Regions from separate parts of the Homo sapiens genome. Here regions 1, 2, 4 and 5 are each reported to be linked to region 3. The links are microRNA targets in miRTarBase. Many come from high-throughput screens and were not tested one by one. Region 3 holds a microRNA gene; each other region holds the end of a gene's coding sequence.
Evidence for each region. Region 3 holds the annotated microRNA hsa-miR-6515-5p (UUGGAGGGUGUGGAAGACAUC, at 1,338-1,358, opposite strand). A microRNA usually pairs through its seed, bases 2 to 8, with sites in the 3' UTR of a target mRNA and lowers its output. Matches are read on the target gene's strand: a 7mer-m8 pairs with bases 2 to 8, a 7mer-A1 pairs with bases 2 to 7 and ends in A, and an 8mer does both.

Region 1 (6,356 bases), not on the chromosome of region 3:
CTCACCAGGTAATTATGAGAATTACAAAATAATACCTTCAAAATACTCAGGGCACTGTCAAGAATATAGTTAAAGCATTCAACATAATATATAGTAACTATTTTGAGAACTTTCCTTGCTTTTTCAACAATTTCACTCTCTTACCTCTAAATTCAGCTTCTGTTGGTATTCTACCCATGGTACTGGTCTTATACTGTACTGAAAATTATTTCTCTACTAACTGCAATATTTTAACGCTTTCAGACTCCTTTCAGTCATTGAACACACATGATAGAGCCCCTATTAGGTTATCAGGCACTCATCCATGTGCTCAGGATATAGCAGTGAATTAGACAAAGTCATTGCCCTCTTTGAGGGTACATTCATCTTTCCCTAACCTACTTCTTTGTCCATTATCAGTCCATTGCATTATTTGCTGTCTGAAATGCCACCCTTCAAGGGCTTTGAGGAGATATGAAAAACATGGTAGTATATACCAGCCCAAGGAAGATAAAAGTAAGACCCGAGAAAATACTTTTCAACAAGACCAAAATTTAGGCCATGGAGGGGGACTTTCAATCTGGAATGATCGAGCTTTAAGGAAGACAAGTACATGAGGTCAGTACTGTAGTGGACATGACCTGTGCCCAATGCAGGCTCTACCTGTTTGTTCCCTTTCTGAAGCTATGGATTATATAGTTAATCTTTAAATGACCCCCAATTTGCAGGTGAGGAAGAACTGAGGCACAGCAGTAAAGTAACTTGTATGACATCATAAAATTATTAAGTGGCAGGCACAATATTTTCCTCAATTTTTAAAAAAATTTATGGAGACAGATGGGGTTTTGTCATCATTTAGCCCAGGCTGATCTCGACTTCCTGAAGTCAAGCAGTGTGCCTGCCTCAGCCTCCCCAAGTGCTGGATTACGAGTGCTGGGATTACAGGCGTGAGCCCTCACATCCAGCCAAATTTTTTTTTTTTTTTTTTTTTTGAGACGGAGTCTCTCTCTCTCTCTCACCCAGGCTGGAGTGGAGTGGAGTGATCTCAGCTCACTGCAAACTCCACCTTCCAAGTTCAAGCGATTCTCATGCCTCAGCCTCCTGAGTAGCTGGGATTATAGGCCCCCGCCACCACACCCATCTAATTTTTTGTATATTTTTTTATTTTTTTGAGACGGAGTATCACTCTGTCACCCAGGCTGGAGTGCAATGGCGTAGTCTCAGCATAGTCTTGGCTCACTGCAACCTCTGCCTCCTGGGTTCAAGCGATTCTCCTGCCTCAGCACCCCAAGTAACTGGGATTACAGGCACGTGCCACCACACTTGGCTAATCTTTGTATTTTTAGTAGAGTTGAGGTTTCACTATGTTGGCCAGGCTGGTCTTGAACTCCTGACCTCATGATCCGCCTCCCTTGGCCTCCCCTGGGATTACAGGCGTGAGCCACCGTGCCCAGCCGTAATTTTTTGTATTTTGAATAGAGATGGGGTTTCACCATGTTGGCCAGGCTGGTCTCGAACTCCTGGCCTCAAGTAATCCACCCTCCTCGGCCTCCCAAAGTGCTGATACTACAGGAGTGAGCCACTGCACCTGGCCTCAGGCGACCTTTTTTTTTTTTTTTTGAGACGGAGTCTCACTGTCACCCAAGTTGGAGTGCAATGGTGCAATCTCGGCTCACTGCAACCTCTGCCTCTGGGGTTCAAGCGATTCTCCTGCCTCAGCCTCCCAATTAGCTGGGACTACAGGCGGGTGCCACCACGCCCAGCTAATTTTTGTGTGTGTGTGTGTGTGTGTGTGTGTGTGTGTGTGTGTGTGTGTGTGTGTTTAGGAGAGACGGGGTTTCACTGTGTCAGCCAGGTTGGTCTCGATCTCCTGACCTCGTGATCTGCCCACCTCGGCCTCCCAAAGTGCTGGGATTACAGGCGTGAGCCACCGCGCCCAGCCCAAATTTTTTATACTTGAGCCTATACACTCCAAAGCCTGGGAAGAGAAAATGGGCCAGATAACTTGGGCATATCCTTCCTCTCATACAGCTCCCTAGGCCATAGGACACACAGATGTGTCAGATATCATGTTGAATACTTTGCTATTAAAATTCCCAGATTTTTGTTTTTTTTTTTTCTAAGACAGGGTCTCGCTCTGTCACCCAGGCTAGAGTGCAGTGGCATGATCTTGGCTCATGGCAACCTCCACTTCCTGGGTTCAAGCAAGCCTCAGCCTCCCGAGTAGCTGGGATTACAGGCATAAGCCACCATGCCCGGCTAATTTTTGTATTTTTAGTAGAGATGGGGTTTCGCCATGTTGGCCAGGCTGATCTCAAATTCCTGGCCTGAAGTGATCTGCCCGCCTTGGCCCCCAAAGTGTTGGGATTACAGGTGTTAACCACTGTGCCCAGCCTAGATATTCTTATGGTTAAAGAATTCTGTAGTTCTTCCATCTGACTGCAAGTCTGTAGGAGGCCCAAAAGTGAGAAGCATAAGCTGGGAGAGAGAGTTCATTATTGTTATTGTTTGTGAACAAAGGGGCCCTCCAGACCAGTAAGACTGTATGCTCCATTATGGTAGGGACTGAGCCCTGAAATTCTCTCTATAGTTCAGTGCAGTGCTGAGCTCACTACACTCAACAGAAACTTCATTTTAAAAGGCCAGGTCCTCCCTTGAAAAGGTCTTTGGGGGATGAAACAGGAAGAGGTTTATTCTGGGGACTGCAGTCTGATGAGAAACTGGGGTGGCGTGAGAATTTCCCTCTGAAGAAAGCATCTCCTAGTAAGACAAATAAATGGCATTTCCTGAGCCCCTTGGTTCTCTTCTGTGCAGCTCCTCTAGGACACTGAAAAAGCATCCTAACATGCTCAAGACAGGATAGGAAATGGTCCTCTGGCTTGAAAGACTCAGCATCCAGAAGTAGTACCTCACTCTCCATCCAGTGGTCACCCCCCAGAAATGTGCTCTCGTAAGTTATTTCCTCCATTGATACGCCTGCTCTCCTTCCCCAAGGCATTTGTTTTATTGGCTAATTCCCTTTGGTAATTGGTTTGCCGCTCTTTTAGGAGTCATTTCCTGTGTTTATTTCATTATACAAGAAAAAAAAAAAGCTCTTAAGTGGACCAAAGGGATAAGGAAAATGATGCATGTTTTCCTGATGTCCACATGCAGCAAGTCCCTTAATCTTTGCCCCTGCCTTCCTGGTGCTGTTGCCAGGCTGAGACCCTGGTTGGAGGAATAGTGCCTGCAGCTACAGCAACTCAGGCAGCCTAGGATGACTGCCAGGATGCATGAGGGCTGCCAATACCAACTACTGGGGAGATGATTGTCATCCCTGTGGAGGTACTGGAGAAGGTTGGTGGGGGAAGGTGGAAGAGAGGAAATAAGGCAGAGATGAGCTCAGGGTCCCCAGAGAATGGAGCCTTTGTGTGGGGTATAGATGAGGGACAAGGGGGTGATTGTGTGGGAGGGCCGGAAGTGCCACACGGACTGGCACCACCATAGCCAGCACCAGATTCACCCTTCTCCTGCTCTGAGAACTCCCTGTGCCTCAAGGAGCCGGTACCAGACATGGTCAGGGGACGCAGGGTATGCCTGAACACTATAAAGGATGGGAAGGTAGAAAAGCAGATGTATAGCCTGGGGAAAATGAAAGGTATCCCCGCATTACCCCAGACCCAGGGAACAGGAGGCCGAAGGAAAAAGACAGAAGCAGCTTTTACTATATTTACATCCAACAAAACTTCGCAGGGAACAATCCTTATTGCACAGGTCAGGACCTGGGTGGGTGAGGCATTCCCCAAGGCGGGGCAGGCAAGAAAAATTAGGACTGGAGGGGGCACCAGTTCTTCCTAAGGGGAGCTTGAGACTCCTCTAGCTCCCAGTGCCTGACTTTGAAGGAACTACAAACCACCGGACCATGGTGCCCTATTTCCCTTCCCTTTCTCACTCTCCATAAGAACCTCATAAGCAAGGGGGCTGTGGCTCCAGAATAAATAATTTAAAATAAAATACAAACACTTAGGTAGAAAGGCATGGAGAGCCTTGGGCTCCTTCAGCAACGTCAGGGAAGAGGGACCATTATTGGTGGAGAATGACATCCCTACCTCCCATTCAGGGCAAAGGCTCAGTAGCTCTGCATCTTTCCAGTTGTTTTTTAAAACAAAAACTTCTAAAATGACCAGGGCAATGCAGATCTGTGGGTACCCTGGAGGGGAGTTCCCGGTATAGGACAAGGGAAGAACAGAGCTGTACCAACTCCCCCCAGATCTCCCCCAACATCAGCACGAACAAACTGGGTAGGTTGGTGATGGGGGAATCAGGACTTTTGGTAACAGTGGATCCCTCTTCCTGTTGTCCTCGCTTGGAGCCTTTGACTGGGCATCCTTCCCAGCCTGTTCCCAACTCCATGAAGGCAACAGGGAAGCAGTTTAACTCTAGAATCCCTTCTTCCTCACTTCCCCACCCTAGGCTGGAGAGGGAAGCTTAAGGTCTCTAGCATTCTGGAGGTGCTCCAAAACATTTTCGGCAGTCAATGGCCTTGGGAGTGGGCATCTGCGCCCGCCGGTGCCTCAGCTCCTCCTTGCCCATGCTGCTGGCCAGCTTGTTAAAGGCAGACTTGTACTTCTTATCGAAGGCCACTAGGGAAGAAGGTGGAAGTCAACATGTTAGGACCGCAGCCTCCCACACCTGGCCCCAGATCCCTAAACTCCTCAGCCCCTTGCCTGCAATCTCACCTATGTCCACGTGGTCCTTGCCCAGAGCAGCCATTGTCAGGAATAATATCTCACGGTAGATTCCCCTTTAGTGGAGGCAGAAGTGTATGAGTGAGAGAAAAGGGGTGTGGAGCCCCGGACAGACCAGGGATCACCCAGATGGTAGCACCATACCTCTGCAGGTGCAGGCCAGTGGGTGGGGGCCCTAGAGTTTCCAGCAGGAGCCCCACAGCCTTGTGCACTTCATTGAGTCCAACATGGCGCAGCACTGACTCCAACAGTGCCAAACTAAGGGATGCAGGTACAGGGCCTGGCCATACCACCCGCTGGGGGATCTGGCCTGGATGAAAGGAAAGAAGGCCACCAGAATCACTGAGCCCTCTGGGTATGGGACCCACCCTCCCCACCCAGGCCAAATACCAGACTCACTGTGGACCCTCCAGAGCACATAGAGAGGTGGGCAGCTATTGGGGTCAGGGGTCAGTACATCCCACAGCAGCCGTACCTGAACAGAGGCTGGATCAGGGGTTAGCCAAGGAGATGGGGCCTGGGGGAGCCAAGATAGTGGAGACAGTTAGGCTCAACGAATGGGAGGCAGAGGACAAGAAACGGACAGGTGATGCCAAAGAGACAGAGGGCCATTACAGGACACAGCCAAAGAGAAGTGGGAAAGGAATTCTTATCCCCCACAAGAATGTAAGCTCTTGAGAGCAGGGACTGTTTTGTAATCTGCTACATACCTAGTGCCTAAAACCGTGCCTGGAACATAAAAAGCACTCAATACTGGTGGAACGAATAGACAAATATGAATGAATCATTTGTTTAGGTACCAGGCTCTGCACAAGGTTGTCCACACACCAGCCCAGTGAGATAGGTGCTTATGCCATTTTACAGATGACCAAATTGAGGCTCAGAGTGGTAAAGTGAAACGGCAAGGATCCGAACCAGGTGCAGCAGACTCCAAAGTCTATGCTCTTTCTTTTTTTTTTTTTTTTTTTGAGACAGAGTCTCGCTCTGTCGTCCAGGCTGGAGTGCAGTGGCGCGATCTCAGCTCACTGCAAGCTTCGCCTCCTGGGTTCACGCCATTCTCCTGCCTCAGCCTCCCGAGTAGCTGGGACTACAGGCGCCCGCCACCATGCCCGGCAAATTTTTTGTATTTTTAGTAACACGGGGTTTCACCGTGTTAGCCACGATGGTCTCGATCTCCTGACCTCATGATCTGCCCACCTTGGCCTCCCAAAATGCTGGGATTACAGGCGTGAGCCACCACACCCAGCCAGTCTATGCTCTTTTTTTTTTTCTTGAGACGGAGTTTTGCTCTTGTTGCTCAGGCTGGAGGGCAATGGCGCGATCTCGGCTCACCACAACCTCCGCCTCCCAGGTTCAAGCAATTCTCCCACCTCAGCCTCCCGAGTAGCTGGGATTACAGGCATGCACCACCAAGCCTGGCTAATTTTTTTTGTATTTTTAGTAGAGACAGGGTTTCTCCCAGTTGGTCAGGCTGGTCTCGAACTCCTGACCTCAGGTGATTCGCCCACCTCGGCCTCCCAAAGTGCTGGGATTACAGGCATGAGCCACCGTGCCTGGCCAGTCTATGCTCTTTCTACAGTGCCAAGGACACAGTGGACAAATGGCTGAGAGATGAGGGAGGCACTTAGGAAACAGGGGCCACATGGGGGC
Region 2 (6,356 bases), not on the chromosome of region 3:
AATTATATTTATGTTCAACTTAACCATTATAACTTTCATATGTTATAATTAATGCTAAGTGTACTTGTTCAATTAGGTACAATAGGTTAGCAAGAGAGTGGACAGAGAAATACGCTATGTTGTAGGGTAAGAGGATCTGCACTCTATGGTGCGCTTATTATGGTACTGCCAGCACTTGAGTGCTGCATGCGTTAAGGCACTGTATTAACTAACAAAAGGTAACAAATATGGCAGTCTTCTGAAAACTGTACATTTAACTGCTTGGTCTCTGTTTAACGTGAAAGTAAATATCTGGTAGCCGTTATTGCTTGAAAGTACTGCATGGCAAAGCAGTTACAATAGCACTAGTAAGAAATGGGAATTTATGTAGTATCTTTTTTTTTTTTCAAACTATCATGGTGTTTAAATTTTAGCTTGAGACTTTGTACCAATCCTATACAGAATGTGGTGGTTTAGTTCAAATTTTGCCGGGAGATAGTAATGTAAGGGAAAAACACTTTTAAGCCTAAGCATCTAAACTAAATGTTCATTACTGACAAGCATGCATTAGCGTCAGCTGTACTTTGTGGCTCCCTGTATGCTAAATAAAGCCTTTGTTTTAAAGTGCTGGCTTTTTGAGAGAGTATCCTTAGGAGATGACAATGAATTGGTAGAAAGAACTTTTTAAAAAGTTTAGGAAAGTTGTTGGACCATATTTGGTTCTTGGTTTGAAATAAAGCTAGTTAATATTTAAACAATATAAAAATTCTCCTGTGCATATATATATATATATATTCATTTCTTAAGGTTATCACTGTTTTTTGTTGTTGTAAGTAGTCTATGGCATGAGTATAATCCAGGGGGAAGCTGATAGTATTTATCAATGTTAGTAGTCTTCCTGAGTAATAACCTTGCTTGTGTGTGAATTACCTGTTGATCTTTTTAAACGAAGATGCCCTTGTTGTACTCAACAGGTCTCAGTGGTGCTTATTAGCCTCAGTTACCACACTTATTAAAAGTAACACGTGATTCTGATGAACACAACCACTCACACACACACCCCTTTTGAAAATTACTGCCCTTTGTCATTCTGCCCAGTGTCATCTTCCCCTTCTGCCTCTACCTAAGTCCCAAAGCCATTTTTTCTTGTAATATCCAGGACCAAGTAATTTCCCAAACTCTAGGATTCAGATAAAATTGTTCTAGTAAAAGCCTAGTTCTGGCCTTGGTGGAAATTTCTGTGGATAGATAGAATGTGTATACTATTTTAACATTTGTCCATAATGAACTGTAAAAATTTCTTCACGTTAAAATTAGAGCATGAGCTCGGTGGTAGAGAAAGAAAGGGTCTTTTGATTTTTGTTAGCCTCCCAATTTTCAGTGCTGCTTTCTTAGTTGTTTTTAAAATACTACTTTCAGAGCATCAGGCTCTCATTTCCCACATTGCTTTGAGTACCAGTGCTATTTCTCCCTTGTTGGCTTTTATTCTAATCATAGTCATTAGAGATGACTTCATGATGAGTCTGGAGATGATAAAATGGAAATCTTTCCCTTCCATTTAAAGTATTAGGAATTCTTTATTTTAACTTTTAAAAATAACATCTTTATTTACAGGTACAACAGAATATCTCGGGAATGGACTCAGAAGTATGCCATGTGATGCTACCTTAAAGTCAGAATAACCTGCATTATAGCTGGAATAAACTTTAAATTACTGTTCCTTTTTTGATTTTCTTATCCGGCTGCTCCCCTATCAGACCTCATCTTTTTTAATTTTATTTTTTGTTTACCTCCCTCCATTCATTCACATGCTCATCTGAGAAGACTTAAGTTCTTCCAGCTTTGGACAATAACTGCTTTTAGAAACTGTAAAGTAGTTACAAGAGAACAGTTGCCCAAGACTCAGAATTTTTAAAAAAAAAAATGGAGCATGTGTATTATGTGGCCAATGTCTTCACTCTAACTTGGTTATGAGACTAAAACCATTCCTCACTGCTCTAACATGCTGAAGAAATCATCTGAGGGGGAGGGAGATGGATGCTCAGTTGTCACATCAAAGGATACAGCATTATTCTAGCAGCATCCATTCTTGTTTAAGCCTTCCACTGTTAGAGATTTGAGGTTACATGATATGCTTTATGCTCATAACTGATGTGGCTGGAGAATTGGTATTGAATTTATAGCATCAGCAGAACAGAAAATGTGATGTATTTTATGCATGTCAATAAAGGAATGACCTGTTCTTGTTCTACAGAGAATGGAAATTGGAAGTCAAACACCCTTTGTATTCCAAAATAGGGTCTCAAACATTTTGTAATTTTCATTTAAATTGTTAGGAGGCTTGGAGCTATTAGTTAATCTATCTTCCAATACACTGTTTAATATAGCACTGAATAAATGATGCAAGTTGTCAATGGATGAGTGATCAACTAATAGCTCTGCTAGTAATTGATTTATTTTTCTTCAATAAAGTTGCATAAACCAATGAGTTAGCTGCCTGGATTAATCAGTATGGGAAACAATCTTTTGTAAATGCAAAGCTGTTTTTTGTATATACTGTTGGGATTTGCTTCATTGTTTGACATCAAATGATGATGTAAAGTTCGAAAGAGTGAATATTTTGCCATGTTCAGTTAAAGTGCACAGTCTGTTACAGGTTGACACATTGCTTGACCTGATTTATGCAGAATTAATAAGCTATTTGGATAGTGTAGCTTTAATGTGCTGCACATGATACTGGCAGCCCTAGAGTTCATAGATGGACTTTTGGGACCCAGCAGTTTTGAAATGTGTTTATGGAGTTTAAGAAATTTATTTTCCAGGTGCAGCCCCTGTCTAACTGAAATTTCTCTTCACCTTGTACACTTGACAGCTGAAAAAAAACAACATGGGAGTAATAATGGGTCAAAATTTGCAAAATAAAGTACTGTTTTGGTGTGGGAGTTGTCATGAGGCTGTGTTGAAGTGACTTATCTATGTGGGATATTGAGTATCCATTGAAATGGATTTGTTCAGCCATTTACATTAATGAGCATTTAAATGCAACAGATATCATTTCAGGTGACTTAACATGAATGAATAAAAGTCAATGCTATTGGATTGTTTTTTGTTTGACAAGTGCTATCTGTGCCACTGATTTAACTTCTGTAGTAACAAGGGCATTACCATTCTTCACCTTTCCTAATTCTGATCCCATAGTTTTACATTTTTCCTGTTTATTTTGATTTTGTTCACTGCTTTATTTCTTAAAGTTCTAGCACATCTGTGACTCCTCCACTTCCACATTTTTGCACTGCTTACACTTACGTGCAATCTTATTCCTTGTCTGCACACACATGTGGAAAGCTAGAAATAAATGTTAAAACTTACTTTTTATAAACATTTTAATATGTAGTTTGGACATGATTTATTGACTTAAGGTTCTTCTCTAAACTGGAAGTGAAATGCATGCCTTCTGAAGATGTTCTGGCTTTGTTAATTCTGTAATCATTTCATTGGGGAAAAAACCAGCTACGCAGTTTTTCCAATGAGTGAATTTTTTCATTTTGTGTTTTGCTTAAAACGGCTCCTTCAGGGTAGATGTCATACTGCATAACTTTTTTGGATTCAAATTATGAATGAGAAATTAGTTAACATTCTGCTCCACAAGGTAAGAAAAACTGCTCTTTGGCTCTATTTTCAAAATTACTTCTGAGATGCATATAGTCTCAAAATAACAGCTTTAGTAGGCATATCACTTCTTGAAAGCCAAACATGAGTGTAAGACACTTTTATGAAACACGGTGGATCCCTAACTGGCTTTCAAATTGACCTTTATAGCCTTAGACAACCCTTAGGTATTTACGGAGATGACTTCTTTGATTGTCATAACAATTAGTGGATGTGTCCAGTTCTCTGTATCTTTGACTTGATGCTTTATACATCATTTCATTTGTTGCTTCTAAGGGAATAAGCCATAGAGGCTTCTCCAGGTTTAAAAGAACAGTAAAGTACCTGGAAAACCAACATTTTTGAATGTATGGACACTGGACATGAGATATGTACAATGAAATCTTAAAAGAATCTAAGAATTTGCCCTCTTTGCCCCACTCCACCCAGTAATTTGACATTACTAGTGCCATGTATAGGACCCAACTGAGTATTAGAATCAGTTTTGACTATGTCTTTGTATTTCCTAAATCTTTTAATGCATAAACCGAATTAGGGTCCAGTTGGCCTGTTAATGGTAAATTTACATTTTAAATGACTCAGTTTGTTTTTCCTGGGCGAGTTTGCAATGTGATAATCAGATTTTTTAAAACTGATTAATTTGCTTTCTTGTGTGGGTGTACTCACATTTTAAAGTATGAACCACAGTTAACTAGTGGTCTCAGGGGTAGTGAAACACTCACTTTTTTTTTTGTTTGTTTTTTTTTGTTTGTTGAAATGGCTTAGTTGAAGTATACTTAAGGTACTGATCATGCTGTGTTAGTAATTTGGGCGGGGAGGGGGGTAACTCAGCCATGTTTTGTGTTGGCATAACAAAACTGTTAATGATTGTTGATTACACTTTTAAGTGAATTTGTCTTTTATGAGGAACCCAGTGCAAGTCACTAAATATTGTCTAATAGTGACATCTGCATAAGACTTGTAATAGCTGAAGTTAATTGAGCTTAAAGGAATTGTTACCATTAAAGTCTGTGTTTAAAGACACTTTGGTCTTACTCGGTAATTCCAGCTAACATGAAATCCACACTTGAGCTTAATGTGTGTGAGCTCGATTTTTAATTTTATACAGTTTATGAATAAGGTGGTTCTCAAAATGTTTCTTGAGATAACAATCTCAGCATCATTTAGGAAATTCTTTGTAATATAAGTTGTCAGGCCCCATCCCAGTCCTGAGTCAAACTGGCATGGAGCCCAGTCACCTATATTAAAACACCCTCCAAGTGATTCTGATGAATAGTGAAGATTGAGAACCGTTTTCAGAAGTCTGTTCGTAGCATTCCCTTGTAACAGACTACAACCAGTAATCCTTTGACTCTACAGCTATTTTTTTATAGCTGTTTTTGGCTTTAGAGAATGTGTTTAAGTATTACGTTTCTGATACCTGACAATTTCCTAGTACTTTGAATTGTAATACAGTACATTGATTTCCACATTTACACTTGGAATATTAAAATACATTAACGTCCTACAGTTGGCTAATTTGAATAACCATACTGGCATGGAATTCAACCAATCGTCAAGTATTTAAAAGTAATCAGGTGCAAAGATCTACCTAAGTATTGTGTTGGCTAGCTGAACAAATTTGAACCCAGATCCCATTCTGTGGCCTGACACTAGGCAATTTTTCCAAGTGGAAATGATGCTATGTTAAGGGTGTTTGCAGTGTTTGACAGATATTAAAGGTACCCTAAGGTGACTATTAAGATTTCTCGTGCTGTCCCATTGTAATGGAAAAATCAACGGTTAAAGGTATTTGGAAATGGCTTCAAAACATGACAGTGCCACCCCCTGCCAAAAAAACTTGAGGAACCATTTTAACAAAAAGACTTAAATATATTGAAGTTCGCCGAATGTCTTAAGTCCCTAGAAATTATTACTGTGTTGCATTATTTGTTGCTACCTTATAACTACTTGCTCATTTCTGGCCTCAGGTTTGAAAAATTTTATATGATTCAGGTATACAAGATGTTTCTGACAATTGTTCTTTTACTTGGGATGCTTCCATTAAAGTCCCATTATCAGTATCTAGATCTTCCCAAACTGTATGCTATTTATGAATGAGATTTTTTAAGAGCCCTCTTTTCTGTATTGTAAAAAATATTATGAAATTTACATTTTTACGTACTACTGTCTGATCCTCTATAGAACTTGATTTCTCATTTACCGTATCAAATTTGTAGTCAAGGCTAAACAATGAACTTTCATGTCATACTATCTTAGGAGCCCAGTTAACCACCGTCATTTACTAACCTTCAAGCTATTTCTCCTGAGCTCCCATATAGCTTCTATTCATTATCCACATGACAAGCTAAAGGGCGTCTTTTAAAATGTCTAAAACTGGACATATGTCTATAAAGACATACACATATACATATACTATTACCCCATGCTCAGTAAATGTCAACATTAAATTGCAATGGCCTAAAACCTAGGCACCATCTTTGACTTTTCACACTCCACCTTCAATCAGACTTAACAGCAGCCTTTAGAATCTGCCCATTTATCATGTTGACTGTTAGCACTATGATCTAAAGCTATATCATTTCTTATTTGGATTATTGGAGTAGCCTCCTGAGTGATCTCCCCACGTTGCAGCAATCTGTCTGTCCCACACACAACCCCTTTAAACCTTATCAGATGGCATGGCTTTCCTCCAAACCTAATGGTTT
Region 3 (6,356 bases):
TGACCTGAGGCCAGGAGTTCGAGACCAACCTGGGCAACATGAAGCCCTGTCTCTACAAAAAGGCTGGGTGAGGTGGCTCACGCCTGTAATCCCAGCACTTTGGGAGGCCAAGGTGGGTGGTTCATGAGGTCAGGAGATGGAGACCATCCTGGCTAACACGGTGAAACCATGTCTGTACTAAAAAAAAAAATACAAAAAAATTAGCCAGGCATGGTGGGGGGTGCCTGTAGTCCCAGTTACTCGGGACCCTGAGGCAGAAGAATGGAGTGAACCTGGGGGGTCGTGCGGAGCTTGCAGTGAGCAGAGATCACACCACTGCACTCCAGCCTGGGCGACAGAGCAAGGCACGGTCTCAAAAAAAAAAAAAAAAAAAAAAATTAGCCTGGCATCCATAGTAGCACATGCCTGTAATCCCAGCTACTCCGGAGGCTGAGGCAGGAGAATCGCTTGAAACCAGGAGACGGAGGGCGCAGTGAGCTGAGATCGTGCCATTGCACTCCAGCCTCAGCAACAAGAGTGAAACTCTGTCTCAAAAAAAAAAATTTTTTTTGTAGAGATAGGGTCTCCTCGCTGTGTTGCCAAGCTAGGTTGAGTTGTGTAACTCCTGGCCTCAAGCAATCCTCTGTCTCAGCCTCCCAAAGTACCGTGATTGTAAGGGTGAGCCACTGTGCCCAGCCCCAGCTAACTAACTGGGTTACCTGACCACCTTCTAGGTCTTTGGGGGTAAAGAAGTTGATTTGCATAAAAGTACTTGGGGAAGTACTTGGTGCACAGCAAGTATAACCTTAAAGGGGTTGCTGTGAGGACTTCACAGGGACAGACCAGGAAGTACTGTTTACAAGAAGTACCATTTTTGAGTCAGACTCACCTGGGGTGCCTACCCTGTCCCTTTCCTCTTGGGTGATCTTATGCACTTGAGGTACCCCAGGGATCCTCCTTTTTCCTCCAAGTCTCACCTGCCAGAGGTCCAGGCCCAGCACGCCAAAGTTATCATAGGCATAGATACTGGGATCGGGAGAATACTCGGGGTTGTCAATTTCTGGGTGGATCCAAGTGCCCTTGTAATCTGGGTTGTCGATCTGCCGGGGCTTCCACTCACCCTGCAGAAGGGAGAAGGAAACCGAAGGGTGAGTAAGGTTGGTGCACTCCCCACTGTGAGCCCCAGCCCTGCTCAGAGCCCCAAACTCACCTTGTACTCAGGGTTCTGAATCACTGGGGGTTCCCACTCTCCGTCCATCTCTTCATCCCAGTCCTCGGGCTTCTTAGCATCAGGGTCAGGGATATGCTCGGGCTTGTCCCAGTCCTGGGGGGTAGATGAAGAGATCAGAGTTGGCCCAGATGTCTTCCACACCCTCCAATGTGGAGAGCAGAGCCCCTGCCCAAACACCAACCTCAGGCTTGGAGTCTGTGGGATCATCGATCTTGGCCCGCTCATCCCAGTCTTCCGGTTTTGAAGCATCAGGATCCTTTATCTTCTTGGGTGGCAGGAAGTCCCAATCGTCTTCCAAGGAGCCGGACTCCACCTGGCTGTTGTCAATCTTCACCTCATAGGTGTTGTCTGGCCGCACAATCAGTGTGTACAGGTGTGTAAACTCATCATCCTGAAGAAGGAAGAAGGTGAGCGGGGGCCACCCCCCAATGAGGCTGACCTCTGAATCTCCCCATGACAGCCATTTGCCACCACCCCCAGGCACACCTTGCAACGGATGTCCTTGTTGATCAGCACGTTCTTGCCCTTGTAGTTGAAGATGACATGAACCTTCTTGGTGCCAGGGCCACAGATGTCGGGACCTAGGTGTGAAGCAGATCCAGTTAAGAGTCAGAGACTACCCATCATCTCGAGGCTCTCACCCCTCTTTATAAAAGGAAGACCTGGTTCTTCAACTCGGGTCTGTCAAGGCTGAGAAGAGAAACTCAGACCCTGATTCTGTCCTGAATGGGCTGTGGGTGGAGCCTTAAGTTTAAAGGAGAAAAAAAAAAAATCAGTGCTCTAGAACTCAAAATCCTCATTAGTAAGATTGGGAAATAACTATATACAAACACGCAAATTAAATTAACAGCCTAGATCTGCGATCATAATGCAATAAATTGTTGCTGGGACTTATTCTTTTAGCTCCCCTTCCAAAAAAAATCATTATTAAGAAAGTCAATGGGGTCTGGGTCTCCCTCTAACTAATGGGACAGAGATCAGCACCAGGAAGCAGGCCCTCACCAAACATGATGTTGTATTCTGAGTCTCCGTGCATGTCTGTCTGGTCCAAACTATTAGGAAACAGCTTCACATAGCCGCCCCCACAGTCGATGTTCTGCTCATGTTTCACCGTGAACTGCACCACCAGCGTCTGGCCTTTGTTGCTGAAAGGCTCGAAACTGGCCGACAGAGCATAAAAGCGTGCATCCTGGCTTGTCTGCAAACCTGAGACGGGACGGTAGTGAGGTCACCGTTGGGCCTTGACTCGCGAGGACCCTCGACTTAGAGAATAGAGAAGACTCCCCCACTTCCTCCACCTGTCCTCCTCCAAGGGGACTGTCCCGGCTGTGTGTGTACAGACAAGGACTTCTGCCAGGAAGTCCTCCCGGATCTGAGCACCCACTCCTAGGCTCTTACCTTTATCTTTCTCCTCGTCACCGTAGAACTTGCCGGAACTGAGAACGAATTTGCCAAAATCTGACTTGTGTTTGGATTCGATCCAGCGGGAAGTCCACCCGTCTAAGTGGGGGATTAGAGGGGTAGGTCAGAGCGGCTGTGCTAATCCCCCCCCACACCAAACATCTGCCGAGAGCCACAAGCTGCTGGGGACAGGAAAGGAGATCCCCGACACTCCCCATTCCAACCTCTAGTTTGACACGTCGGGTGCCTTCAGAGATCCTCGGGCTAACCCTAACTCCCGCCGCGGGAGGCCGCTACGCCCTCCGCGCTCCCCAGGGACGCAGAAGAGAAATCGCCCGCGGCTCTAGTCCCGGGAGGCCACCGTGTTGGACCTCTAAACGGTAATTACGGGCGACAACGCAGATCCAGGATCGGGGGCCGGCCGCGTCGTCGGGGCGGCCTCGAGGCGGGACCAGGCGTTACCTCCGTCCAGAAACTGCTCCTTGAAGTAGACGGCAGGCTCGGCGACGGCCAGGCCGAGGAGGCCGAGCAGCAGCGGCACGGATAGCAGCATGGCGGGCCGAGGGGGCGGCAACGCGCGGGCCCTTTAAAACGACCCTCCGGCAGCGGCTCTGCAGTACGGACGGACGCCGCCGCCCGCCTTGCACTTTTATACCCACCCGCCTCTCAAACCAACCTGACCCAGCCCTTGGGCCCGCCCCTGCCACTTTGTCATTGGTCTATGCCCATGGCCGTCTTTTTCCATTGGACCTTCGTCGGTTCACTATGTTAGGCTGCGCCTCGGAACGCTGGGTTCCCAGATGGCCGATTTCTATTGGCCTCACCACCGACCAATGATGGTCGACCACGCGTGGGGGGGACGCCCACTGGTGGGGTGGGGGCCGCGAGCACCTCAGGCCAGGTCATGTGACCAGACCTGAACCCAACCCCGCCCTCGTCCGCGCGCGTCGTTGCCCATCTGGGCGTTTAAAGAAACCGCGGGAGCGCAGCTGTCTCCACGCGGGACCGGGACCCTGCCCTCAGCTTCTCTCCCTCCCATTCCCTCTAGGTGGAGGGGCTGGGCAAGGCTTTCTTAGCCAGCTCTTATCTTGCATTTGAGAACCAGCACCCCACTGCTGCTCCCCCACCCCTGCCTGGGATGGGAGAGAGCTCACGGATTGGGGCCCTTGGGGCTTCGCTGCACCCCGGTGCTACAGTCACGCGGGCCGGTGGGAAGAATGCCAGCCCTCTCCTCCTTCTGCCCCTAGAGCCCTGGCAGCCTATCGGACTGCTGCTGTGTGACCGGGGCAAGTCACTTAAGCTCTCTGAAGTGACAGACGTTCCTGAGCAGACAGAGGGGGCGACCCTGGCCAGATGCTACCCAGCAGAAATGCTTTTAACGTTTTTAAAGCTGTCCTGGGACAAGAGGGGAGGAAGGCTTAACGATGTGACTGTGACTTCTGGAGTGGGGATAGGGTTATTACCCAGATTGCAGCCGCCCCTTTACCCTCCTCTCAACCGGTAAATGAAGGGGGTCGCTGTCTGTGGTCTCCCACAAACGGCCTGGCTTTTGCAATTAAACGGCTATAGGCAGGCGAGAGGGCAGGGGGTTCCGTTTGGGGAGGGAAAAAAGACACAGATGGTAGGGACGATAAGATGCTAGGGAGATGGGCAGGACCCACCCCCCGACCCCAGTCTAGAGTCTTCTTCAGAAGCCAGAGGCACGTGACTGGCACCAGTACCCTGCCCCCACGCTGTAGAAAGGAGGAAGGAGAGCTGGGGGTTTTCCAAACTCTGGGCAAATAAGCCCTGGACCTGGGAGCGCGGGAGTGGACTATGGAAGGAGGGAATGAGGGGGATCCAGGAAAGAGGGTGGGGAGGGGGTGCTTCCTGGCTAATGGTTGTGACTCAGAAAAGAGAGGAAGGAAAAAATGAAAAGGAAAATAAAGTGGAGTGGGGGGAATGACTTGGCAAGGGTCTCTGGTTAAAAAAAAAAAAAAGAAATGGTGGCCGGGCGCAGTGGCTCACGCCTGTAAACCCAGCACTTGGGGAGGCCGAGGCGGGCAGATCATTTTAGGTCAGTTCGAGACCAGCCTGGCCAACAAGGTGAAAACCCATCTCCACTAAAAATAAAAATAAATAAATAAATAAAAATTAGCCAGGCGTGGTGGCGGGTGCCTCTAATCCCAGTACTCGGGAGGCTGAGGTGGGAGAATCGCTTGAACCTGGGAGCCAGAGATTGCAGTGAGCCAAGATCACGCCACTCCACTCCAGCCCACCAGCCCAGGTGACAGAGCAAGACTCCATCTCGAAAAAAAGACGGGGGAGAATGAACTGGGAAGTTGGGGTTCTACCACTTCCTCTAGGTAGTATTCAGTATTGCCTAGTCTGGTCCCCCCCATGAGGATCCCGGGGACCATCCCAGGCCTCTTGCTGACCCTTCCTCCTGTTCCTGTGTCAGGCACCTGTGGGCTTGGCGCTTCCTACTTGAGGTTAGACACTGCCTGTTTTGTTCACTTCGCATCCTCCAGTGTCACCTGCAGCACCTGGCACAGAACAGGCTTAAAAAGTACTTGCTGCATGATAGAAGAGAGGAAGGAAGGACTCTTGTGGAAATTAACTAAAAACACACGGGGCACAGTGGCTCACGCCTGTAATCCCAACACTTTGGCAGGCCAAGATGGGAGGAATGCTTAAGGCCAGGAGTTCAAGACCAGCCTGGGCAACATAGCAGGAGGCCATTTTTACAAAAACATTTTTTTTAATTGCCAGGCGTGGTGGCGCCTGCCTGTGTTCCCAGCTACTCAGAAGGCTGAGGCAGGAGGATCACTTGAGACCAGGAGGTTGACGCTGCCGTGAGCTGTGTTGTTGCCACTGCACACTCTAGCCTGGGTTACAGAGCAAGACCCTGTCTCAAAAATAAATAAAAATAAGCCGGACATGGTAGTTCACACTTATAATCCTAGCACCTTGGGAACCTGAGGCAGGCAGATTGTTTGAGCCCGGCAGTTCAAAACCAGCCTGGGCAACATGGTGGAACCTCATTCTTACAAAATATATATATGTACACATATGTAATATATTATATATGACATATAATGCATAAATATATGAATAGTATGTATATTATATATAGCATATAATATATAATATACATAACACAAATTAGCCTGGCCTGCTGGTACACACCTGTAGTCCCAACTACTCGGGAGGCTGAGGTGAGAGGATTGCTTGAGCCCAGGAGGTGGAGGCTGCAGTCAGCCAAGATCATGCCACTGCACTCCAGCCTGGGCAATAGAGTGAGACCCACTCCCTAAATAAATAAATAAATAATCAACATAAAATGGGAGGAGAGAAGGGACTTTGAGAAATGTATCCTTAATACAGAACCTCATATAGGGTCAGGATTTGGGGATATGAGTAATCCCATTTTACAGACTCAAATAATAATTGTGATGTAAAAGGAATAAATGTGTTCTGCTTATAAGAGTGTTCGAACATGGGCCACACTCAATTTAGTAAGCAGTGTGAATATGTGTGGGCATTTAATTCTCACAGTAACCTGGGCTCCAATCACCTCCATGTGAGCAAGAAACTGAGGCACAGAAAGACTACACCTTCTGGTTGAATGACATAAATAACAGATCTAGGATTCTTTTTTTTTTTTTTTTTTTTTTTTGAGACAGAGCCTTGCTCTGTCACCGAGGCTGGAGTGCAGTGGTGCGATCTCTGCTCACTGCAAGCTCCACCTACCAGGCTCAAGTGA
Region 4 (5,998 bases), not on the chromosome of region 3:
GGAACTGGAAGTGTGGATTTGGCATTCCCTGAGATGGGAATATGGTTGATAAAGCACGGTTGCATGAGAAGATCAACATTCCTATTTATTTCAGTCTTTGTTCCCTCCCCTTCTTCCTAGGCTTTCTACATAGCTATTCTGCCATTCATTTTACTGCTTCCACTTTATTTTTCTTCCTTGTGCCTATGTCTTCAGCCTGCCACTGAGAACCAGTGGCATCCATTGGACATCTATGAAACCTGTGTGTCAGTCAGGGCCAGAGAAGTTGCTGACCCCTCTGGAAACATCCTTTACTGTTTTACTTCAGAGAATAATTACTGAAAGAGATTTTTGTTAAATGTTTATAATTAAAACAACAGGCAATTGTTCTTGTTCCAGAGTCATTTGATGTGGTCACAAAATGTGTGAGTTTCACACTAACTGAGCAGTTCATGGAGAAATTTGTTGATCCCGGAAACCACAATAGCGGGATTGATCTCCTTAGGACCTGTGAGTACTTTGATTTCACCAGGACAGTTGGGGGAACAAAGATAATTTTATTTGTCTCTTTTTGGACTATGTTTTTGGAATAAGATGAGTTAGTAGATTGTGCCAACGTGAAATAAAATCTCTAACAGTATCCAGTGAACTCTATTCTGTTGATATTTTAGAAGGTAGATACATGCTTACCAAATTTCAAATGATTTGAAGTTGACAGGGCCAACTACTTCATTGGATGATGGGATCTAGACCTTCAAAAGATGTTATTAATGGGCCCATTTAGTAAAAGGAAATTTAGTTGAGATAACTTATACATTCCTATATTTGAATTAAACACTTTCCACTGCTTGAGTTCAGGTAAGTATATGTGAAAAAAGTTTACTGCAAGCTCTAAATGAGTCAGTGAGTTGTCAGGCCTGTCAAAAGTGTTTATCCAGTCTTAGGTGATAGTAACAAAAGGGTAGATGTCAAAAAAGATGAAAGTATTTATTAGGAACAACCTATTCCCTGATGGTCAGGCAGCCCATGAAATACTGTCTTCAGATTTGAGCCTCAGTTTTCAGGGCTATAGGGACTTGCCCAGAAGAATGACCATGTTGTAAGAGAAAAGGTTGAATAAGAGGTAGGTATTCAGTTTTATAAAGAGAATGTGTAGCAAGCAGTTTATTACTAGGAGAGTTTGAAAGAAAGTAAGTTAGAAAAACACATAAGAAGTTCCAGAAAGCAAAACCAGCACCAAAAGGTGTAAAGTTTAGTCAAGATTGATATGAATGCATTTCTAATAATGAATATTATTGGAAAATGGAATGGCATGTTTTGTGAGGTCATCAGGTTTTCTTCCCATGTTGATGAGAGATTTATGATAATTAAAACTACCTTTAGATTCTCTGCTTTGTGCTTTATATATATTCTTCAACAGCCCTATAAGACAGGTCATTTATAATTACCATTAATTTACTTGTTGTTACTGCCTTTAGATCATATAAAGACCTAGATATTGTTGGTAGGTAGAGTCAGACTGATTTTTGTATCAAATCCTGGCTCTACCACTTACTGTGTTATTTTTACAAGTTATTTATGACTCTTGCCTCAGTTTCCTTAATTACAAAATGGAATTAATAATAATACAGCTGTAGCTATGGGGGATTGGATTCAGGACCCCCTGCTAATTCCAAGGTTGCTAAAGTACCTTATATAAAATGGCATAATATTAGCATATAACCTACACAATCCTCCTGTATACTTTAAATCATCTTTAGATTGCTTATAATACCCAATACAATATAAATGCTATGTAAATAGTTGTTATACTATATATTTGTAAATTTGTATCATTTTTTTTTCTGAATATTTTTAACCCTTGGTTAGTTGAATCTGCGGATGTGAAACCTGCAGATATGGAGGGCTGACTGTACCTACTTTCTAGGGTTGTTGGGAGGATTAATACAGAAAATGTGTAGACAAACATAGCATGGAACATAGTGAACCCTCAGTAATTGCTACTACCTGTTAGTGTCCTTTTACTTTTATCAGGACAAGAGTAGCATCCTTTTGAATAATGTGCTTTAGAAAAGAGGCCTCAATGTTAAAATACTTTCACACTTTTTGAGAAAAGATCTAATTAGAATATGAAAGAAATTGCCATTGCGGGGAAAATGGTCTGAAATCACGGTAACATTTCTTTTCTCTCTTTTTAAAAATCAGATCTTTGGCGTTGCCAGTTCCTTTTACCTTTTGTGAGTTTAGGTTTGATGTGCTTTGGGGCTTTGATCGGACTTTGTGCTTGCATTTGCCGAAGCTTATATCCCACCATTGCCACGGGCATTCTCCATCTCCTTGCAGGTAGGTTTTGTCATCATACTTACCTTTTAGCTTCTTCCTGTCTCTTTAGGGACCAAAGAGTTATAAATCTGAAATGTTCACGTATTAACTGCCCTGTCACATTGCCTGAAAAGCTCTTTACTGTGCTTTTATCCAGCCATGTTTTGTTTTGTTTTCTAAATTTTCCCCCAAGGTCTGTGTACACTGGGCTCAGTAAGTTGTTATGTTGCTGGAATTGAACTACTCCACCAGAAACTAGAGCTCCCTGACAATGTATCCGGTGAATTTGGATGGTCCTTCTGCCTGGCTTGTGTCTCTGCTCCCTTACAGTTCATGGCTTCTGCTCTCTTCATCTGGGCTGCTCACACCAACCGGAAAGAGTACACCTTAATGAAGGCATATCGTGTGGCATGAGCAAGAAACTGCCTGCTTTACAATTGCCATTTTTATTTTTTTAAAATAATACTGATATTTTCCCCACCTCTCAATTGTTTTTAATTTTTATTTGTGGATATACCATTTTATTATGAAAATCTATTTTATTTATACACATTCACCACTAAATACACACTTAATACCACTAAAATTTATGTGGTTTACTTTAAGCGATGCCATCTTTCAAATAAACTAATCTAGGTCTAGACAGAAAGAAATGGATAGAGACTTGACACAAATTTATGAAAGAAAATTGGGAGTAGGAATGTGACCGAAAACAAGTTGTGCTAATGTCTGTTAGACTTTTCAGTAAAACTAAAGTAACTGTATCTGTTCAACTAAAAACTCTATATTAGTTTCTTTGGGAAACCTCTCATCGTCAAAACTTTATGTTCACTTTGCTGTTGTAGATAGCCAGTCAACCAGCAGTATTAGTGCTGTTTTCAAAGATTTAAGCTCTATAAAATTGGGAAATTATCTAAGATCATTTTCCCTAAGCATTGACACATAGCTTCATCTGAGGTGAGATATGGCAGCTGTTTGTATCTGCACTGTGTCTGTCTACAAAAAGTGAAAAATACAGTGTTTACTTGAAATTTTAACTTTGTAACTGCAAGAATTCCAGTTCAGCCGGGCGAGGATTAGTATTATTTTTAACTCTCCGTAAGATTTTCAGTACCACCAAATTGTTTTGGATTTTTTTTCTTTCCTCTTCACATACCAGGGTTATTAAAAGTGTGCTTTCTTTTTACATTATATTACAGTTACAAGGTAAAATTCCTCAACTGCTATTTATTTATTCCAGCCCAGTACTATAAAGAACGTTTCACCATAATGACCCTCCAGAGCTGGGAAACCTACCACAAGATCTAAAGTTCTGGCTGTCCATTAACCTCCAACTATGGTCTTTATTTCTTGTGGTAATATGATGTGCCTTTCCTTGCCTAAATCCCTTCCTGGTGTGTATCAACATTATTTAATGTCTTCTAATTCAGTCATTTTTTTATAAGTATGTCTATAAACATTGAACTTTAAAAAACTTATTTATTTATTCCACTACTGTAGCAATTGACAGATTAAAAAAATGTAACTTCATAATTTCTTACCATAACCTCAATGTCTTTTTTAAAAAATAAAATTAAAAATGAAAAGAGACTCAATTGTATATAGAGTGTCTGAATTGATTTAAATCTCAACACTTTAGGATAAAGAAGTGGAGGCAATCTCTGTGGTTGTCTGTGCAAAGTGCATCTTGCTGTACAGGGCTGTCGTTACATCCTGTGTTTGGGTCTCTTGTTTGATCTTCTGGGAAATGTAGGAACCCCTTCCCCCTATTAGAAATAAGAAAATCTTTATCTTTTATTTTTCAGAATTTTAAACCATGTTCTCAAAAGTAGTTTTGTTATCTCTACATGTCATACTTAATGTGGCTAGTTTTCAGTAAAGTCATTTAGTGGCTGTGGATGTTTGTGTTCTATAGTAAATAACCAAGTCAGCTTCTGACTTAGAACAAAGTCAGCATTACTCTGTAGCCAATTATTGCCTGTGAAATGACTGGTTACTCAGGTTTCTATCTAATCTTAATTCTTGAAGATTCATTACCCTTCAGCGCCTTCTGTGGAAGGTGGAAAAGAGAAAAGCTAAATGAACAAACAAAACACCTTTGGGAATGGGATAAGAAAATTTTTGGCAGCATGACATTTTTGTATTGGTCAGTTATTTTAAACAATGTCCCTGCCTCTTAATACCCCAGAGTTACATGGGAAGCTACTAGCACCATAACCCCTGGTGCTGCATTGTAGTTGGTATTTTTAGCATGTTGCAGGGTAGCTGAGGTTATCTTTCCTGCAAAGACTTTTTTTCTTTGGAATATATAGGGCTGTATTGTTCATTTAAATGTGAAACTGATTCTAATCAGGTTGAACCATATGAAACTGCAGATATTCAGCCATTTTTGATCAACCTAATAGATAAAATCAGTGGCAAGGCGAACCCTATTTAATCTTTGAAAGCAACCCCCAAAGTAAAAAATTAATTTTCAGATTTTTCAGAATGAATTTTTTTTTCTTTTGGGGTGGAGTTTCACTCTTGTTGCCCAGGCTGAGTGCAATGGTGCGATCTTGGCTCATCACAACCTTTGCCTCCTGGGTTCAAGCGATTCTCCTACCTCAGCCTCCCGAGTAGCTGGGATTACAGTCATGCACCACCATGCCCAGCTAATTTTGTATTTTTAGTAGAGATGGGGTTTCCCCATGTCGGCCAGGCTGGCCTTGAACTCTCGACCTCAGGCGATCCGCCCGCCTCGGCCTCTCAAAGTGCTGGGATTACAGGCATGGGCCACCATACCCGGCCTCAGAATGAATTTTGTGGCAGTTTAACAAATGTGTTTTAAGACTTTGATTTTATAGCTCCTAACTAAATGATGTGGGTAAATATCCTCTATGATTTTTAGCAAAAGACTCATTTCAAAATTTATTAAGTATAGCCATAAAACACAATTTGGCACAACAACAACAACAACAAAAAAGGAATTCTAGAATTTATTCAGATAACAGTGTGCCTTCTGTCTGCATCATATTACACTAGGATTTCAAATTTATAATCTAATGGGAATGTGTTAAAATTTTACCTGCTGTAGTTGTGTGTGTGCACATGCACACGTGCGTTAAGGGAGAGGATAGGGTTGACAATCACTCCTAGGTGAACTCATTTAGTCATATGATTTGAGAAGAATGAGATGACCACAAACCATATCAATTTAGTTTGTTTTTCCATTCCAGAAACATCACCAAATTGCAGACTAGCACAGTTAAAACCTATAGACCCTGTCATGTTCAATTGACTATAACATATATAGATCGGGCCATTTTAATACTTAGCCTTCATATAAACTTTCACCAAAAATGAAAACCTGTTAACCTAATTTTGCTGATTGAAAAACTTTCTTTTTTGTGAAATGGAGTCTCACTCCGTCACCCAGGTTGGAGTGCAGTGGCCCAATCTTGGCTCACTGCAACCTCCGCCTCCTGGGTTCAAGGGATTCTCCTGCCTCAGCCTACGGAGTAGCTGGGATTACAGGTGTGTGCCACCATGCCCAGCAACTTTTGTATTTTTAGTAGAGATGGGGTTTCACCATGTTGGCTAGGCTGGTCTCAAACTCCTGACCTCAAGTGACTCACCCACCTTGGCCTCCCAAAGTGCTGGGATGACAGGCGTGAGCCACTGCACACGGCCTGATTGCAAAACTTTCTGAAATTCTCTA
Region 5 (6,356 bases), not on the chromosome of region 3:
GCCAGCTCACATTTAGCCCTGGTAAGCATCTGATTTAGAGATATTCCAATGCACAGCATCTGGTTTAAAATCCTTACACCGACACACTACCTTAGGGCAGCTCACTTCTCCCCATATGGGACAACCACGAGTGGTCCAGAGCTAACAGACAAAAGTCAGAGGCTGAGAGAAAAGAAAGAAGTTCCTTTCCCAGGATGTAGCCCATTAAGAGAGAGTCACCAGACCTGTCTGGTGAGAGAAATCAGGTCACCTCTAGATCTGAGTGGAGTTACTTGCCCTGCCTAGAGTCCCTGGTTTGGAGCCTTGAAATCTGACACACCTCTAGGAAAGGAAGGGAGAAAACAGGGGACCCAGAAGGCATCAGAGTGGTCCTGCCGGCTTCCCCTGTAGAAGCAGGAGTTCTGACAAAAACCCTTCAGTTTTGAGTCCTATTGGTGTGGCCAAGCTTGGACCCTGGGCTTAGCTCTCTCCATCTTGCCAGGTGGAAGAGTGACCACCTGATGTGAGGGCAGCATTCTCAGGGGGCTCAGCAGGCGTGCAGGTCAGCTTTGGCAATAAGGCTGCCCCTCAGGACTGGGCCTGCCTCATGATTCTGCTTTAGGCATAAAAATGCTGGCCAAATCCTAGACTTATTGAAGCTGGAAGGATTCGTTAATAGCTGACATTTGAGGCTGGGTGAGGTGGCACAAGCCTGTAACCCTAGCACTTTGGGAAGCTGAGGCAGGAGGATCGCTTGAGCCCAGGAGTTTGAGACCAGTCTGGCCAACATGGTGAAACCTTGTCTCTACTAAAAATAAAATAAAAAATTAGCTGGGTGCGGTGGCAGGCACCTATAGTCCCAGCTACCAGGAGGCTGAGGTGGGAGGATTGCTTGAGACCAAAAGCCACTGTCACGCCTGGGGTGACAGAGCCAGACCCTGTCTCAAAAATAAAAAATAAAAAATAAATAAAAAATAGGCCGGGTGTGGTGGCTCACGCCTGTAATCCCAGCACTTTGGGAGGCCAAGGTGGGTGGATCACGAGGTCAGGAGTTCGAGACCAGCCTGACCAACATGGTGAAACCCCCGTCTCTACTAAAAATACAAAAAATTAGCTGGACATGCTGGTGCATGCCTGTAATCCCAGCTACTAAGGAGGCTGAGGCAGGAGAATCGCTTGAACCCAGGAGGCAGAGGTTGCAGTGAGCCGAGATTGCACCACTGCACTCCAGCCTGGGCAACAGAGCGAGACTCCATATAAAAATAAACAAAATAGGCCGGGCGCGGTGGCTCACGCCTGTAATCCCAGCACTTTGGGAGGCCGAGACGGGCGGATCACGAGGTCAGGAGATCGAGACCATCCTGGCTAACACGGTGAAACCCCGTCTCTACTAAAAATACAAAAATTAGCCGGGCATGGTGGCGCGCGCCTGTAGTCCCAGCTACACGGGAGGCTGAGGCAGGAGAATGGCGTGAACCCGGGAGGCGGAGCTTGCAGTGAGTCGAGATCGCGCCACTGCACTCCAGCCTGGGCGACAGAGCGAAACTCCGTCTCAAAAAAAAATAAAAATAAAAATAAAAATAAAAATAAAAAAAATAAAAAATTAGCTGGGTGTGGTGGCAGGCCCCTGTAGTCCCAGCTACTAGGAGGCTGAAGTGGGAGGATCGCTTGAGACCAGAAGCTCGAGTTTGCTGTGAGCTGAGATCACGCCACTGTCGCACCTGGGTGACAGAGCCAGACCCTGTCTCAAAAAAAAAAAAAAAAAAAAAAAAGTCCTGGCGCAGTGGCTCACTCCTGTAATCCCAGCACTTTGGGAGGCCGAGGCAGGCGGATCACCTGAGGTCAGGAGATTGAGACCAGCCTGGTTAATATGGTGAAACCCCGTCTCTACTAAAAATATAAGAAAACTAGCCAGGCTGGTGGCATGCACCTGTAATCGCAGCTACTTGGGAGGCTCAGGCAGGAGAATTGCTTGAACCCGGGAGGTGGAGGTTGCAGTGAGCCGAGATCGTGCCACTGAACTCCAGCCTGGGCGACAGAGCGAGAATCTGTCTTAAAAAAAAAAAAAAAGCTAACATTTGTTGAGTCTGTCCTATGGGTTACTTTACAGCAACTATAAAAGGAAGGTACTGTTTTTCAGTTCCCCTGTTTATAAATGAGGACACAAAGGTAAGCAAGATTAAGAGCCTTGGCCAAGGCAGGCTGGGAGTCAAACCCAGGCTGTCTGAGTCCAAAATCGCAAATTTTCTCTTTTTCTTGGGTGGGGGGACCGAGTCTCGCTCTGTCGCCCAGGCTGGAGTGCAGTGGCGTGATCTCGGCTCACTGCAAGCTCCGCCTCCTGGGCTCATGCCATTCTCCTACCTCAGCCTCCCGAGTAGCTGGTACTACAGGTGCCCGCCATCACTCCCGGCTAATTTTTTGTATTTTTAGTAGAGACGGGGTTTCATTGTGATAGCCAGGATGGCCTCGATCTCCTGACCTCGTGATACGCCCGCCTCGGCCTCCCAGAGTGCTGGGATTACAGGCGTGAGCCACCGCGCCCGGCCAAAACCGCCATTTTCACTCTTGTGTTAGCCTTTAGTCCAAGCCCCTTATGATACAAGAGGGAAACTGAGGCCCAGGGAGGTATAACGGCTTTTCCAAGGTCGCACAGCCAGCCAGGGACACAATCCAAGCCTCTCGGCGACAGGTCCAGGGCTGCTTGGATTTCGGAGTGTGGTGGGGGCATCTTGGCGGCCTTTTTCCAGCCAACCCCCGCGGCCGGCCCGGCCCAGGCCCAGCCGGGTGAGCTGATGACTCAACGGGCAAGCACTGCATTTTGCGATCCTGGCTCGTCCCGCTGCTCTAGAGGGTTCCCAGCTCTCGGGCCGGACGGGCGGCAACTTGTCTGAGTGAAACCGGGAAAGCTCCGCCCCTCGGCGCTCAGCGGGCGGCGGGGGCGCCTCTCAGTCAGTCAGCGAGTCGTGGTGTCCGCCAGGCCTGGCGGGCGGCGGGAAACTCGCCGCGCGCGTTCCGCCGCTCACTTTCCCATTGGCCAGTCAGGCCCCCGGGGCGGTACCCTGGGGCAGCTCCCTCCTGTGATTGGGCGGTATTGGCCTCGGGCCCCGCCTCCAGTCCAGGGCTGCGAAGGCGGGACGGAGCAAGGCGGCTGCAGGTTCCGGCGTGTTGCTGGCTGCAGAGAGCTCAGGCAGCGGGCTCGGTAGGCACAGCTCCCAGCGGCCCTTCCCACCCAGCTCGTCCTTCCTCCCCTTCAGCCCGTTTCCTTTTGTCTCCATCTCCGAACTCTGTGGGACGTGACCCTCTCCTAAGATCTAGGCTTTTTTGGCGGCGCTATACCCCTTCCTCAGATCGTACTCCCCTCCGCTGAGATCTGAGCCCTTGATGAAACTGTGACCCGCCTGCAAATCGGGTGCTCAGTGCCGCTCACTACTGCGGCGCTGTCCTTAGATCTCACGCCGGAGACTTCACTATTTCCTGCCCCGCTCCACCAGAGCTCGTCAGCCTCCCGCGCCGTGGCTCCCACTCACCTCCCCTCAGCCCGGCAGAGGAGCCACGGCGCCTCCTGTGGGTTCACCCGACCCTCCCGGTCCCGTCCAGTTTGACTGGGGCCGCCGTGATGGAGAGAGCCGGACCCCGGCCTCACCTGGACTCAAAGTCTTGCGTGCGGGCCACTGAGCCACCTAGGGAGTTCAGGGCCCTAACTCAGAGGTCCAAAGTCAGGGTCTCTAAGTCAGATTCCAGTCCCACTCCCAGCCCATCGCCAAGAACTGGAAGAGAGACAGGAGGAGTGTCACAGGGGAACTTTATTGAGAGGAAACATGGTCACACCCAGCAGACATGCTTTCCCTCAATCTCGGTCTTGCACTGGCGCGCGCGCACACACACACACACACACACACACACACACACACCCATCTCCAGCCCCTGCCACTGTCCAGTTCTCAGCCACAAGGCGGGACACTCCTCAATTCCTACGATCAGAGGCAGCAGGGGCAGGAGGGAGGCAAGAGGAGGGGAGAAGTAGCCTGGTCCTGGGGTCGGGAGGAAGCGGGTGCGGAGAGCAGGGGTGGGGGCATGACCAGTGGTTAGGTGCGCTCAACAGCTGCAAGAAGAGTGGGATCCCCAGCCCCAGGTGGCCTCAGCTCTGCCAGTCCCTCTCCACGGAGCCCTTTGGAGCAAGAACAGCGCCTAGGGGAGAAGGGTGGGGCCTCCCACCCCATACTAGTCCTCTCGGCAGGGTGGGGGACTGGAGGGGGCAGGGCGGGGCGGTGGCGGGCAACACTCAGCTCTGGGGCTCCTGGGGAGCCTCGCCCCCCTCTTCCCCGGCGTTGTCGGCCGTCCACAGTGTCAGGTTGTCTCGCAGCAGCTGCATGATGAGGGTGCTGTCTTTGTAGGAGTCCTCGCTGAGGGTGTGCAGATCAGCCATGGCCTCGTCGAAAGTGGTCTTGGCCAGAGAGATGGCCTCCTCGGGGCTGTTGGCGATCTCGTAGTGGAAGACGGAAAAGTTCAGGGCCAGGCCCAGGCGGATGGGGTTGGTGGGCGGCATCTCCTTCTTGCTGATGTCCATGGCCTCCTGGTAGGCTGACCGGGCTGAGTCAATGATGCGCTTCTTGTCGTCACCGGTGGCCACCTCGGCCAGGTAGCGGTAGTAGTCACCCTTCATCTTCAGGTAGAAGACCCGGCTCTCGGCGTCCCCGGCCTCCTTGATGAGGTGGCTGTCCAGCAGGCCCAGCACGGTGTCGCACACGCCCTGGAGCTCAGTCTCCACCTTCTCCCGGTACTCACGCACCTCGGGCCCCTTCTCCTCCGAGCCCTCCTCGTTGCTTTTCTGCTCAATACTGGACAGCACCCTCCAGGCAGCCCTCTGGCCGCCCACCACGTTCTTATAGGCTACTGAGAGCAGGTTTCGCTCTTCGCAGGAGAGCTCCTCGCCCTTCTCCACGGCGCCTTTCATGAAGGCTGCCATGTCCTCATAGCGTTCGGCCTGCTCTGCCAGCTTGGCCTTCTGGATCAGACTGGCTCTCTCCATGGCTCTGGGGACACACAGGCGGGCGGCGGGCTAACTGCTGCCTGGGACCAATGCCGGACTCTGTGTCTCTCCTGCTCTTGGCCTGCCTTTTGGCTGGGTGGCCAGGCCCAGAGAAGGGTGGGGAGGAGCAGGGGGCGGGACCAGGGCCCAAGACCTGCCTCCCTCTCCTCTCTTCCCCACACCCTTTCCGGCTCTGCAGTAAAGGTAAAAAGGCTGGGATGTGGGGGTGAATCATCAGAACAGTCAGCAGGAGAAATCTGGGCGTGGGCCCCACCTGCACTGGCACCTTTCCAGGCTCCAGGCTGCCCCCTCTTGTTCGGGGCTGGCATCACATGGCTGCCCACATCAGGAAACGGCTTCTCAAATCAGATCCACTTTCACAGTGCCCTTCCAGGGGCTAAGGACGGCTTTAGCCCCTGGCTGCTTCAGCCTCGACAGAGCCCATAAAGGTTCAGGAGGATGGGGTTCCTAATCCTGCCAGGTAACTTCCCCCCTTGGTTCAGGTGAGGATAACTCATGTTTAGGTAGGGCCATGGAGTTTCCCAAGCACTTTCATATTCACGATCGAATTTAATCCCCACCATGTCTCTGTGACACACACAGGACCATAGAGATGGGAACACTAAGTCTCAGAGAGGGGTGAGATTTGCTCAAAGTCACATAGCCACCAATTCCCTGAAACTCCTTTCTGCACCCTCTTCCTTTAGCTTTTCTCCCATTGAGGCCTCTGACCTATGAGCTCCAGACTGTGTTTGGAAGTGAGATCCAGGCTCCTTCTCAGTCTACCTGAAGATGGTTCCATCCTCCAGGCCTCATTCCCCCTCAGGGTCCCCTCTGAGCTCCCAGAATGCGCAGGTGGCAGCTTTCAGAGTGCCGCTTAATGAAGTGTTTAACAAGCAGCCTCTGAAGCTCCAGCCCAGCCTTTGTAATTAGTCACCCAGTAGGTTTGTTGGACACATTTCCCATCACTACACAATTTTCCCTTTCAAGTTGGTGGCCTGTTGCCACTTGTTTGAGGATTTACCCTCTGGCCCTCCACGCCAGGTCACCTGCCCTCTCCAAGCCACATGCCATCAGGTACCAGCGGGGCTCACAGAGGGTGGGGTCCAGCTCCCCGGCTGTCCCACTTTCCTGCCTGACTCAGACTGCTCTCTGTCTGAGGCTGGGAAGCAGTCCAGTTTGATCCCCCAGGGGGGACGCTAGCAACCTGGGGAGAGAGAGGACTGAGAAAGGGAGGTGGCAGTGACACATACCATTCTGTTTTATGGGGCAGCAATTCCAGCTACGTGATGCCTCCCCCAGCCTGTTTCTCAGAAGTTTACTTGTTCTTTCCTTTTTTTTTTTTTTA

Region 1: the mRNA of DENND4B is a reported target of hsa-miR-6515-5p. Seed matches in the 3' UTR shown: 7mer-m8 at 4,170-4,176 and 7mer-m8 at 3,792-3,798.
Region 2: the mRNA of UBE2D3 is a reported target of hsa-miR-6515-5p. Seed matches in the 3' UTR shown: 7mer-m8 at 1,772-1,778.
Region 4: miRTarBase lists CLDND1 as a target of hsa-miR-6515-5p. Seed matches in the 3' UTR shown: 7mer-m8 at 3,575-3,581 and 7mer-A1 at 3,629-3,635.
Region 5: the mRNA of SFN is a reported target of hsa-miR-6515-5p. Seed matches in the 3' UTR shown: 7mer-m8 at 4,227-4,233.

The regions. Positions count from the first base shown.
Region 1 is chr1:153,925,842-153,932,197 of GRCh38, forward strand. DENND4B (DENN domain containing 4B) reads right to left here. Exons shown (of 28, transcript NM_014856.3): 25 at 5,106-5,223; 26 at 4,851-5,016; 27 at 4,698-4,762; 28 at 3,660-4,601. The coding sequence ends at 4,456. It overlaps LOC101928059 (a long non-coding RNA gene), which reads left to right. Exons shown (of 4, transcript XR_922160.3): 2 at 400-597; 3 at 2,794-2,929. Among named protein-coding and RNA genes, the nearest start is that of GATAD2B, 6.0 kb to the left of the region's middle.
Region 2 is chr4:102,792,698-102,799,053 of GRCh38, reverse strand. It overlaps UBE2D3 (ubiquitin conjugating enzyme E2 D3), which reads left to right. Exons shown (of 8, transcript NM_181891.3): 8 at 1,594-4,671. The coding sequence ends at 1,639. All of the region lies in intron 4 of LOC102723704 (a long non-coding RNA gene), which reads right to left. Among named protein-coding and RNA genes, the nearest start is that of UBE2D3, 32 kb to the left of the region's middle.
Region 3 is chr19:12,935,488-12,941,843 of GRCh38, reverse strand. It overlaps MIR6515 (microRNA 6515), which reads right to left and starts at 1,360; the gene lies at 1,304-1,360. CALR (calreticulin) reads right to left here and starts at 3,235. Exons shown (of 9, transcript NM_004343.4): 1 at 3,074-3,235; 2 at 2,609-2,710; 3 at 2,213-2,416; 4 at 1,697-1,791; 5 at 1,392-1,601; 6 at 1,190-1,303; 7 at 957-1,100. The coding sequence starts at 3,164. RefSeq lists enhancers at 788-1,415, 752-1,951, 2,844-2,893, 2,188-2,937, 3,564-3,613 and 2 more and a cis regulatory region at 2,995-3,633.
Region 4 is chr3:98,513,376-98,519,373 of GRCh38, reverse strand. CLDND1 (claudin domain containing 1) reads left to right here. Exons shown (of 5, transcript NM_001040181.2): 3 at 379-489; 4 at 2,185-2,322; 5 at 2,495-3,891. The coding sequence ends at 2,715. Among named protein-coding and RNA genes, the nearest start is that of CLDND1-AS1, 6.2 kb to the left of the region's middle.
Region 5 is chr1:26,861,865-26,868,220 of GRCh38, reverse strand. SFN (stratifin) reads right to left here and starts at 5,072. Exons shown (of 1, transcript NM_006142.5): 1 at 3,765-5,072. The coding sequence starts at 5,008. The coding sequence ends at 4,262. RefSeq lists enhancers at 2,714-3,023, 3,234-3,363, 4,508-5,387 and a silencer at 5,257-5,406.